Linked DNA regions of Homo sapiens: all the other regions are linked to region 1. The links come from fine-mapping of genetic effects on gene expression. A gene starts in region 1. Each other region holds a variant in brackets. All regions are shown on one strand. Distances are from middle to middle.

Region 1 (2,791 bases):
AGTGTGAACTACCAATGACAGTCAGTGCTGCGGAGATGGCCCTGGAAGCAGGTGGCAGAGGGGTCCATGTCAGTCCCAGGAGGAGCGGAGGCCTCCCAGAGGAAGTGACATCTAAGGCATGAAGGACAAGCAGGAATTGGCAGAGAAGTAGGGGGCAGGGAGGAGGACCAGGAAACAGCACAAGTTCTCCAAGTAAATTAATAGATGAAAGAATGAACTAGGGGAACGGTCCGGGGAACACAGGGACACTGCAGCTGGCGCCACAGACCACACTGAGACCATTTAACTATTCAATCTTGAATCCTTCACAACAGTGGGCAAGAAGAATTACCATTCTCACCTGACAGAGAGGGAGATAAGGCTCTAGGCCAGGTGCAGTGGCTCAAGCCTGAAATCTCAGCACTTTGTGAAGGTGAGGCCAGCGGATCGCTTGAGCCCAGGAGTTGGAGACCAACCTGGGCATCATAGCAAGACCCCGTTTCTACAAAAAATTTAAAAAACTAGCCAGGCGTGGTGGTGCACGTCTGTAGTCCCAGCTACTCAGAAGGCTGAGAGGACAGAGGATCCCTTGAGCCCAGGAAGTCGTGGCTGCAGTGAGACGAAATCGAGCCGCTGCACTCCAGCCTGGACAACAGAGATGCTGTGAGGAAGGAAGGAAGGAACGAACGAATGGAGGGAGGGGGGAGGGAGGGGAGGCAGGGAAGAAGAAAAGAAAAGTAAAAAGAAATCAAAGCTCTAAACACAGCTGCCAAAGTCAAGGACTGAAGCCTAGACCTGTCTATTCAGAAGTCCCAGCTGTTTCCACCACAGCCCCAACCCCCGGGCTGGAAGAGCTGAGCAACGGCTGGCAACAGAGGCAAGTGCGGCAACTAAAGAGGGTTCCGACGCACCTGAAGGAGCAGTGCAGCAGCACAAGCACCTGCTATGCCAGAGGAAACGCACGTGCCCACCTCAGCACACCAGGTACTGGAGCAGAGCTCAGCGGGGCACAGCTCCTGTCCTCGAGGCACTTGTCAGGCCACTCTGCACAGCGCTGGGGGAGCCCAGGAGCTCCCCACGGGCTTCACGGCGCCCCATTCTCCCTGGGAGTCAACGACCACCCACTGCCAACTCCTTCACCGTCCCGCCAGCACCAGGAGCTCCTTCCCACTCCAAAGAGCCATCCGGGAAGGCCTCCGAGCTGCCCGCTTCCGGTCGCGCGGCTTGGAAGGCCGGGTTCGCACCCTGACTCCGTACCCGCGGCTCTGATGGGGGCGCGGCGTCGCCCGTTCCGGGGCGCGGGGACCTTGGTGCACAGAGTCAAATTGGCACTCGGCCGTCGCCGCCCCCACGGTTCGGGGCCAACCTACCGGCGGGCGCTCCTCCGCGGAAAAGCCCCGCAGTATCCAGAGCTCTCCGAACACAGCGGCGAAGCAGCCTTTCCTAGGCCCACACCCCCAGCTCGGGAGGGAGACTCCATCCTACTCCACCCCACGCTCCCGCTGTCCGAGTCGCCCCCAGCACCTGGCGCCGGCAATCCCCGGCTGATGCAGCCAAAAGCGGGCCTGGTCCCCGGAAGCGCCCTGAGAGCCACTTCCGGGCCGCTCTAGGAAGGCAGCAATGACCGCCCCACTGTGGTCCGCTGGCCCGAGGGGCGGAGCCGAGGCCGCGCCAGGTCCCGCCCCCTCCCCGCCCGGGGGAATCGGGGGTCGCCGGCGGGGTCCCAGACCTCGTCTTAGACAGTTTTTTTTTTTTCTTTCCCCAAAGAAAAAGAAGGCGGTGTTGTGTTTCCGTTTCTGAGGTAGAAACTGCGGCCTGCGCCCGCGTCTCCCTCCCCGCCCGCGCAGAGTGAGGGTAAAGCGGGAGAACGCGTCCCGTGGTCTGGGGTCAGAATTCCAGTCACCTGAGGCTGAGGAGCTCGCTGGCTTTCGTCGGCGTCCGGGTGGGCGGCGGGGAAACCGCGAGACCTTGAGGATCAGCGCGGAGCGGAGCCGAGCGGGCGTCCCTGTCCCGTGTGGACGGTCTGCGCCTCCAGGGTTTTGAGAGCTGCCCCGTTTCCCCTCCTGTCGGGTGGCGTCCGGCGCGCGTGACTCGGTTCCGCTTTGGGCTGCTCTGTTGGGCCCTAGCGCAGGAGCTCGGTCCGAAACAATGGCCGAGCCATTTTATTTAACATGTACTTTACCATAGTTAAAAAATAATATGCCAAAATCATTGAATTGTACAAAATGGGTGAATTATATGGTATGTGAATTATAGCCCAATAAAACTTAAAAAAAAAAAAAAAACTCTGAAAAGGGAAACAACCTAATTAAATGGGCAGAAGATGTGAGTAGACATCAAGGAAGATACAAAGTGGGTAATGGGTACATGAAGCCTTCGGCATTGTTGGCTATTAGAGAAATGCGAATGGAAGCCACGGGGAGGTGCCATTTCATACCATTAGAAGGGTTATAATAAAAATGACAGGTTGGGTGCGGTGGCTCACGCCTGTAATCCCAGCACTTTGGGAGGCGGAGGTGGACAACCAGATCTCAGGAGAACTCTATCATGAGACCATAACTTAAGGGCATGGTACTAAACCATTCATGAAAAGCCACCCCCACGATCCAATCACTTCCCACCAGTCTCCACCTCCAGCATTGGGTATTACCTTTCAGCATGAGGTTTGGGCGGGGACACAGATGCAAACCACATCAGCCATACAATGGAATAGTGTTCAATAATAAATAGGAGTGGAGACTGGGTGCAGTGGCTCATGCCTACAATCCCAGTACTTTATGAGGACTAGGTGGGAGGACCACTTGAGGCTAGG
Region 2 (2,791 bases), 29 kb before region 1:
GACCCCTGGTGCCCTGAACAGCAGGCACAGAGAAGACCCTCCAAGGTCACGGCAGTAGATACCCTCTCCCAGCCCATGTCACCGGGTCCTCAAGCTGGAAGCCTCACTGTCGACTCATAACCAGCCCGTGTGGCACTGCTTCCTGAGGCTGCCTCCCCCTGGACATCCCTGGTGTGATGGCAGCACGGCCATCCCCAACGCACAGCAGAGCCTCCATCTCCAGGGCCTCTGTGCCATCCTCCTCTGTGTGTGCGCAGCAGCCTCTACTGCTGTTCCCAAAACCCCAGTCCTGTGGCTGCTCTGGCACTCGTGGGTCTCTGTATGGCATGGTGCCCAGGTGGGGCCAGCTGTCTGCCCCAGCCCTCCGTGAGGTGGGCGCTGTGGCTCTTGGAGGCTCCTGGCTCCTAGTTCTCTGTCCTCCGAAACTTCTGAGCTCCCAGGCCCACTCCAAGTTGTGGCCTGGCCTATGGCAGTGGAGCTGTGTCCACCCTGTTCACGCTCACTCACCTCTGCTAGGGTCCCTTGGGAGCACTCTCCCCCGTTTCTGGCCGGGTGAGGATCCAGGGCGCCTCCCCTCATTCCAGCAGGGAGATTAGCTCAGGTTTGCAGGCTGGAAATCCTGCTTGAGGAAAACAGTCCAGAGGCCTGGAGTGAGCCTGGGGAGGTGCAGCAGGCAGGGCCTGAACCGGCGGACCCTCATACCCAGCTAGCCAGGCGGGCTGCCCACAGGACACTTGAAGGGTAGGAAGCGGCTGCCAAGATCTCACCCCCAAAGATGCCCAGCTGGCACAAGCCTCCAGTCTCTCTTGATTTGGCTGTTAGAGAAAAGCAGATTCTGCTTGTGGTTGTCATCATGCCATCCCAAACAGATCATCACTACAGGGAGGCACGATCTCTGTACTCTGATGGGTGCGGCATGGGTGAGGACTGACTGTCCAGAGGGCCCAGGGTGCCTTCCAGGAACACCTACAGCACCGCGACCTGATGCTCACCTCACCCCATCCCACAGCAGCCCAGTGCCCTCCTGGCAGTGCCCACTCCTCCCCAGCTCACCCGTCAGGCACTGTTCCTCCCTAGGTGTTCTCTCCACTGCATAGAGGCTTGGACCCGACTTCACGAAGACATTTTGAAACCATGCACCAGAGAGTGTGTGCATAGAATGAAGAACCTTTTGTTTGCAGGGCTCCGTCCCTGCTCTCCAGGGTCACCCAAGCATTTGGGGCCTTGATCCTGGAGAGGCTGCTCCCTCCAGGGCTAGCTAATTCCCAGAGACGGCAAACACTCCCCTTCCAGTGCACCTTTTTTTTTTTTTTTTGAGACGGAGTCTCGCTCTGTCACCCAGGCTGGAGTGCAGTGGCGTGATCTGGGCTCACTGTAGCCTCTGCCTCCTGCGTGCAGGCGATTCTCCCACCTCAGCCTCCTGAATACCTGGGACTACATGCGTGCACCACCACACCCTGCTAATTTTTTTGTATTTTAATAGAGACGAGGTTTCACCATGTTGGCCAGGCTGGTCTCACCTCAGGTGATCTGCCCTCCTCGGCCTCCAAAGTGCTGGGATTACAAGCGTGAGCCACTG[T/C]GCCCAGCCCCAGTGCACCTTTGAGACACAAACCAACCAATCCAGAGTCCACAACTATCTCCCTCCCTTATCACACGGTCACTCACCAAGCCAATATTTCCCCTGCCCTAAGTAACCCGAGGGCCAGGTACCGGACAAGAAGGGGCCACCCCTACAGCCCTGAGCCTGCCACAATTGTTCAAATAGTCCAATCGTGAGCTCACTCTGCATACCTACCCTGCCTGCCCTCTCCTTCCAGAGAAAATAAAGGCTCCGGCCAAACTCAGTCCTCTCCCCCTTTCTGCCTCCTGGCCATCCCTGGTCCTTCTCATGTCGCCCTGTGTGCCCTGCCCAGTTTCCAGGGACCCACGACTATAACTTCTTCCTTCACAACAGTCATTCTCACGTGTGCATGCCTTACCACACCTGTTAAAACAAATCCACGGGTCCGGGCGCGGTGGCTCACGCTTGTAATCCCAGCAATTTGGGCGACCGAGGTGGGCAGATCTCCTGAGGTCAGGAGTTCGAGACCAGCCTGGCTAACATGGTGAAACCCCGTTTCTACTAAAAATACAAAAAATTAGCCAGGCGTGGTGGCAGGTGCCTGTAATCTCAGCTACTCGGGAGGCCGAGGCAGGAGAATCGCTTGAACCCGGGAGCAGAGGTTGCAGTGAGCTGAGACTGTCATTGCACTCCAGCCTGGGCAACAAAAGTGAAACTCTGCCTTAAAAAACAAACAAACAAACAAAAAACAAATCCAGGATACATTTGAACTCACCTTGAGATGTGGGTGTCTGCACTCACCTTGAGATGTGGGTGTCTGCAGATGGCAAGGGACCTGTGGAGGGGCTCTGTGGATTGGAAGCACCATTGCTCTGGGCTGTCCACTCGGATACGGAGAGTGCTGTTGGAAATGCAGCACCTTGAAAGTGTCTTTGTAGTTGAGATTTTTTCCTGGAAACATTTACAGCTTGGAACTGTTCTATCTGGCCAAATATGAGGAGGCTAGAGTTGCCCCAAAAGTGGCAGCAAGGGAGTTGCCTCAAAAGACTTCCCCAAACAGTCCCGCGATGGAATTGGTTGGGATTCCAAGGAAAGAAGCTCTAAACGCCAGGGTGATCAGTCCAGAGCATTTCTTCCGGAAATTTTCACATGGAGCTTCAGCTTTCTTGGGATCGATGATGAGGCAAGGGATGCTCCACCCAGGTACATTTGCAGCAAGGGACTCTGGCT
Region 3 (2,674 bases), 320 kb before region 1:
GGAGGACGGGGACGGCTCAGAGATAAATAGCATTTAGGTTAAAACTATGTCATTAGCAAATTTAGTTCTTATATCTTTCCCTCTATTTATATCTCTATACACGGTGGGCTGCGATGCAGGATAGATTCTGGATTTACAGTTACACGAAGAAAAAAATACTCTCGCCCCTCCCCCACCCTGCCCCCAGAATGCCTGCCCAGCCCTGCTCCCTACCCCAGAGGACTTTGGTTTGGGGGCCCCCACCCCACCCACCGAGAGCCTGCCAGGCCCCGGGCCCACTGTCCTGGAGCCCCCAAACTCCTGAGCAGTCACCAGCTGGGGACCACGGGCCGAGGGAGGGAGAGGAGGCGGGGACAGGTCGGGAAGCTCTCTCGGGGCTGGGAAGAGCTGCAGGCCAGGACGAGGACAGGAGAAAGGGAAGGAGAGACCGGGGCGGCTGGGCAAGGCCCAGGCCAGGGCGCGCAGGAGCCACAGGGAGGCAGCCCGGCCCCAAGGAGGCAGCGTCGCTCGGCTCCAGGACACAGAAGGCACTTTCTCGGAGCTGACCCGCGGCCAGCGGAGGGCGAGGCGGTGCCCGCGGGAACTGGCCGTGAGGTGGGGGGCCAGAGGCGCCCTCCCCGCCGCTGCTGTGCCCTGGCTGCACCCTCAGACCAGGCAGAAGACGTGGGGAGCGCCGGGGCCAGGGGCCTGGGGGAGTGGAGGGGGCTCCAGGGCTGGGCCGGGCGATTCTGGCCCCTCTGCCGGGAGAGCGAGTGCGGAGTTCGGCCTGGCTGGGGGCGGCAGGACATCCCTCCTGTCCCCGGGCGCCCCCGCTACAGCACACCCTCCATGAAGCTGGTGTCCAGGTGCTGGATGAGCACCCGCAGGAAGGACATCTCCTTGCGGGTGTTCTCGAAGATGACGCGCGGGTCGTCGGACTGGCAGCGCAAGCAGTTGGGCGCCATCACCATGGCCAGGTTGCTGACATCCATCTTGGTGACCGCGACGTTGGCCGGCTGCACGAAGACCTGGTGGAGGAGCGAGGGTGGGCGCGGAGGGGCGGGGGCGGGGCGGGGAGGGGAAAGCAGCGGGGACCCCCGGGGAGGGAAGTACCTGCAGGAAGCGGATGAGGTAGCACAGCACCATGCGGTTGATGCGGGGCAGCGCGTGCACCACGGCCACCGCCGCCTCGGGGCTGTCGTAGTGCGCGATGCACTGCTCGTAGAACTCGTGCGGGATCAGGGGCTCCTCCAGCTCCCGGTACCACAGCTTCAGCAGGGACGCTGGGGACACAGCACGGGGCTCAGCGGCCCTGCTCGGCGGGCACCCCTGGGCCAAATGGGGTCCCGTGGCGGACATGCATGGAGGGGTGCTGTGGGGGACAGGCTGGGAGGGCC[G/A]GCTCATTCTGGACAGGGCCCATCTGGCCAGGCTGGGCCCTGACCCCAGAGGGCCTTTCGGCTCCTGGGGGCCTGAACTCGATCCTGGAGGCATGTGGGTCACGCCAGCAGAGTTGTGCAAAACAGGATTTTTCTCAGGAGTCGTCTGTGTAGCCACCGTGAGGGGGTGTCTGCAGAGCAGGCACAGCTGAAGGGCACAGGGCAGAGAGCAGCAGGTGGGGAGTGGGCTAGACATAGCAGGCACGGCAGAAGGGCACAGGGCAGCGAGCAGCAGGTGGGGAGTGGGCTAGACATAGCAGGCACGGCAGAAGGGCACAGGGCAGGGAGCAGCAGGTGGGGAGTAGGCTAGACATAGCAGGCACGGCAGAAGGGCACAGGGCAGCGAGCAGCAGGTGGGGAGTGGGCTAGACATAGCAGGCACGGCAGAAGGGCACAGGGCAGGGAGCAGCAGGTGGGGAGTGGGCTAGACATAGCAGGCACGGCAGAAGGGCACAGGGCAGCGAGCAGCAGGTGGGGAGTGGGCTAGACATAGCAGGCACGGCAGAAGGGCACAGGGCAGGGAGCAGCAGGTGGGGAGTGGGCTAGACATAGCAGGCACGGCAGAAGGGCACAGGGCAGGGAGCAGCAGGTGGGGAGTGGGCTAGACATAGCAGGCACGGCAGAAGGGCACAGGGCAGGGAGCAGCAGGTGGGGAGTAGGCTAGACATAGCAGGCACGGCAGAAGGGCACAGGGCAGGGAGCAGCAGGTGGGGAGTGGGCTAGACATAGCAGGCACGGCAGAAGGGCACAGGGCAGGGAGCAGCAGGTGGGGAGTGGGCTAGACATAGCAGGCACGGCAGAAGGGCACAGGGCAGCGAGCAGCAGGTGGGGAGTGGGCTAGACATAGCAGGCACGGCAGAAGGGCACAGGGCAGGGAGCAGCAGGTGGGGAGTGGGCTAGACATAGCAGGCACGGCAGAAGGGCACAGGGCAGGGAGCAGCAGGTGGGGAGTAGGCTAGACATAGCAGGCACGGCAGAAGGGCACAGGGCAGGGAGCAGCAGGTGGGGAGTAGGCTAGACATAGCAGGCACGGCAGAAGGGCACAGGGCAGGGAGCAGCAGGTGGGGAGTGGGCTGCATTGCACAGGTAGGCCTCGGGGTGCCCAGCAGACACCTGGGGAAACTGTCCAATGGGCAGAAGGGAGGATGTGCTAGAAGTGACTGGGAAGCCATCACATCACTGGGCAGGATCAGGGTGGACCCCAGAGGCGGAGACAGGGGCCCCTGAGAACCACTGCCTGAGCCAGGCCCGCTCTGCTG

The links. PIP is the estimated chance that this variant, and not a neighbour inherited with it, causes the effect.
Region 2: its variant is fine-mapped to the expression of COMMD5 in whole blood (TOPMed, PIP above 0.99).
Region 3: its variant is fine-mapped to the expression of COMMD5 in whole blood (TOPMed, PIP 0.98).

The regions. Positions count from the first base shown.
Region 1 is chr8:144,851,490-144,854,280 of GRCh38, forward strand. COMMD5 (COMM domain containing 5) reads right to left here and starts at 1,559. Exons shown (of 2, transcript NM_014066.4): 1 at 1,350-1,559. RefSeq lists enhancers at 774-1,622, 1,200-1,529, 2,080-2,179 and a silencer at 1,600-1,789.
Region 2 is chr8:144,822,951-144,825,741 of GRCh38, forward strand. LOC100130027 (a long non-coding RNA gene) reads right to left here. Exons shown (of 5, transcript NR_147501.1): 1 at 2,363-2,791. Among named protein-coding and RNA genes, the nearest start is that of ZNF7, 3.2 kb to the right of the region's middle. The variant T/C (reference allele first, on the strand shown) is at 1,580.
Region 3 is chr8:144,529,610-144,532,283 of GRCh38, forward strand. ARHGAP39 (Rho GTPase activating protein 39) reads right to left here. Exons shown (of 12, transcript NM_025251.3): 11 at 1,093-1,262; 12 at 1-1,007. The coding sequence ends at 813. Among named protein-coding and RNA genes, the nearest start is that of C8orf82, 1.8 kb to the left of the region's middle. RefSeq lists a silencer at 369-468. The variant G/A (reference allele first, on the strand shown) is at 1,377.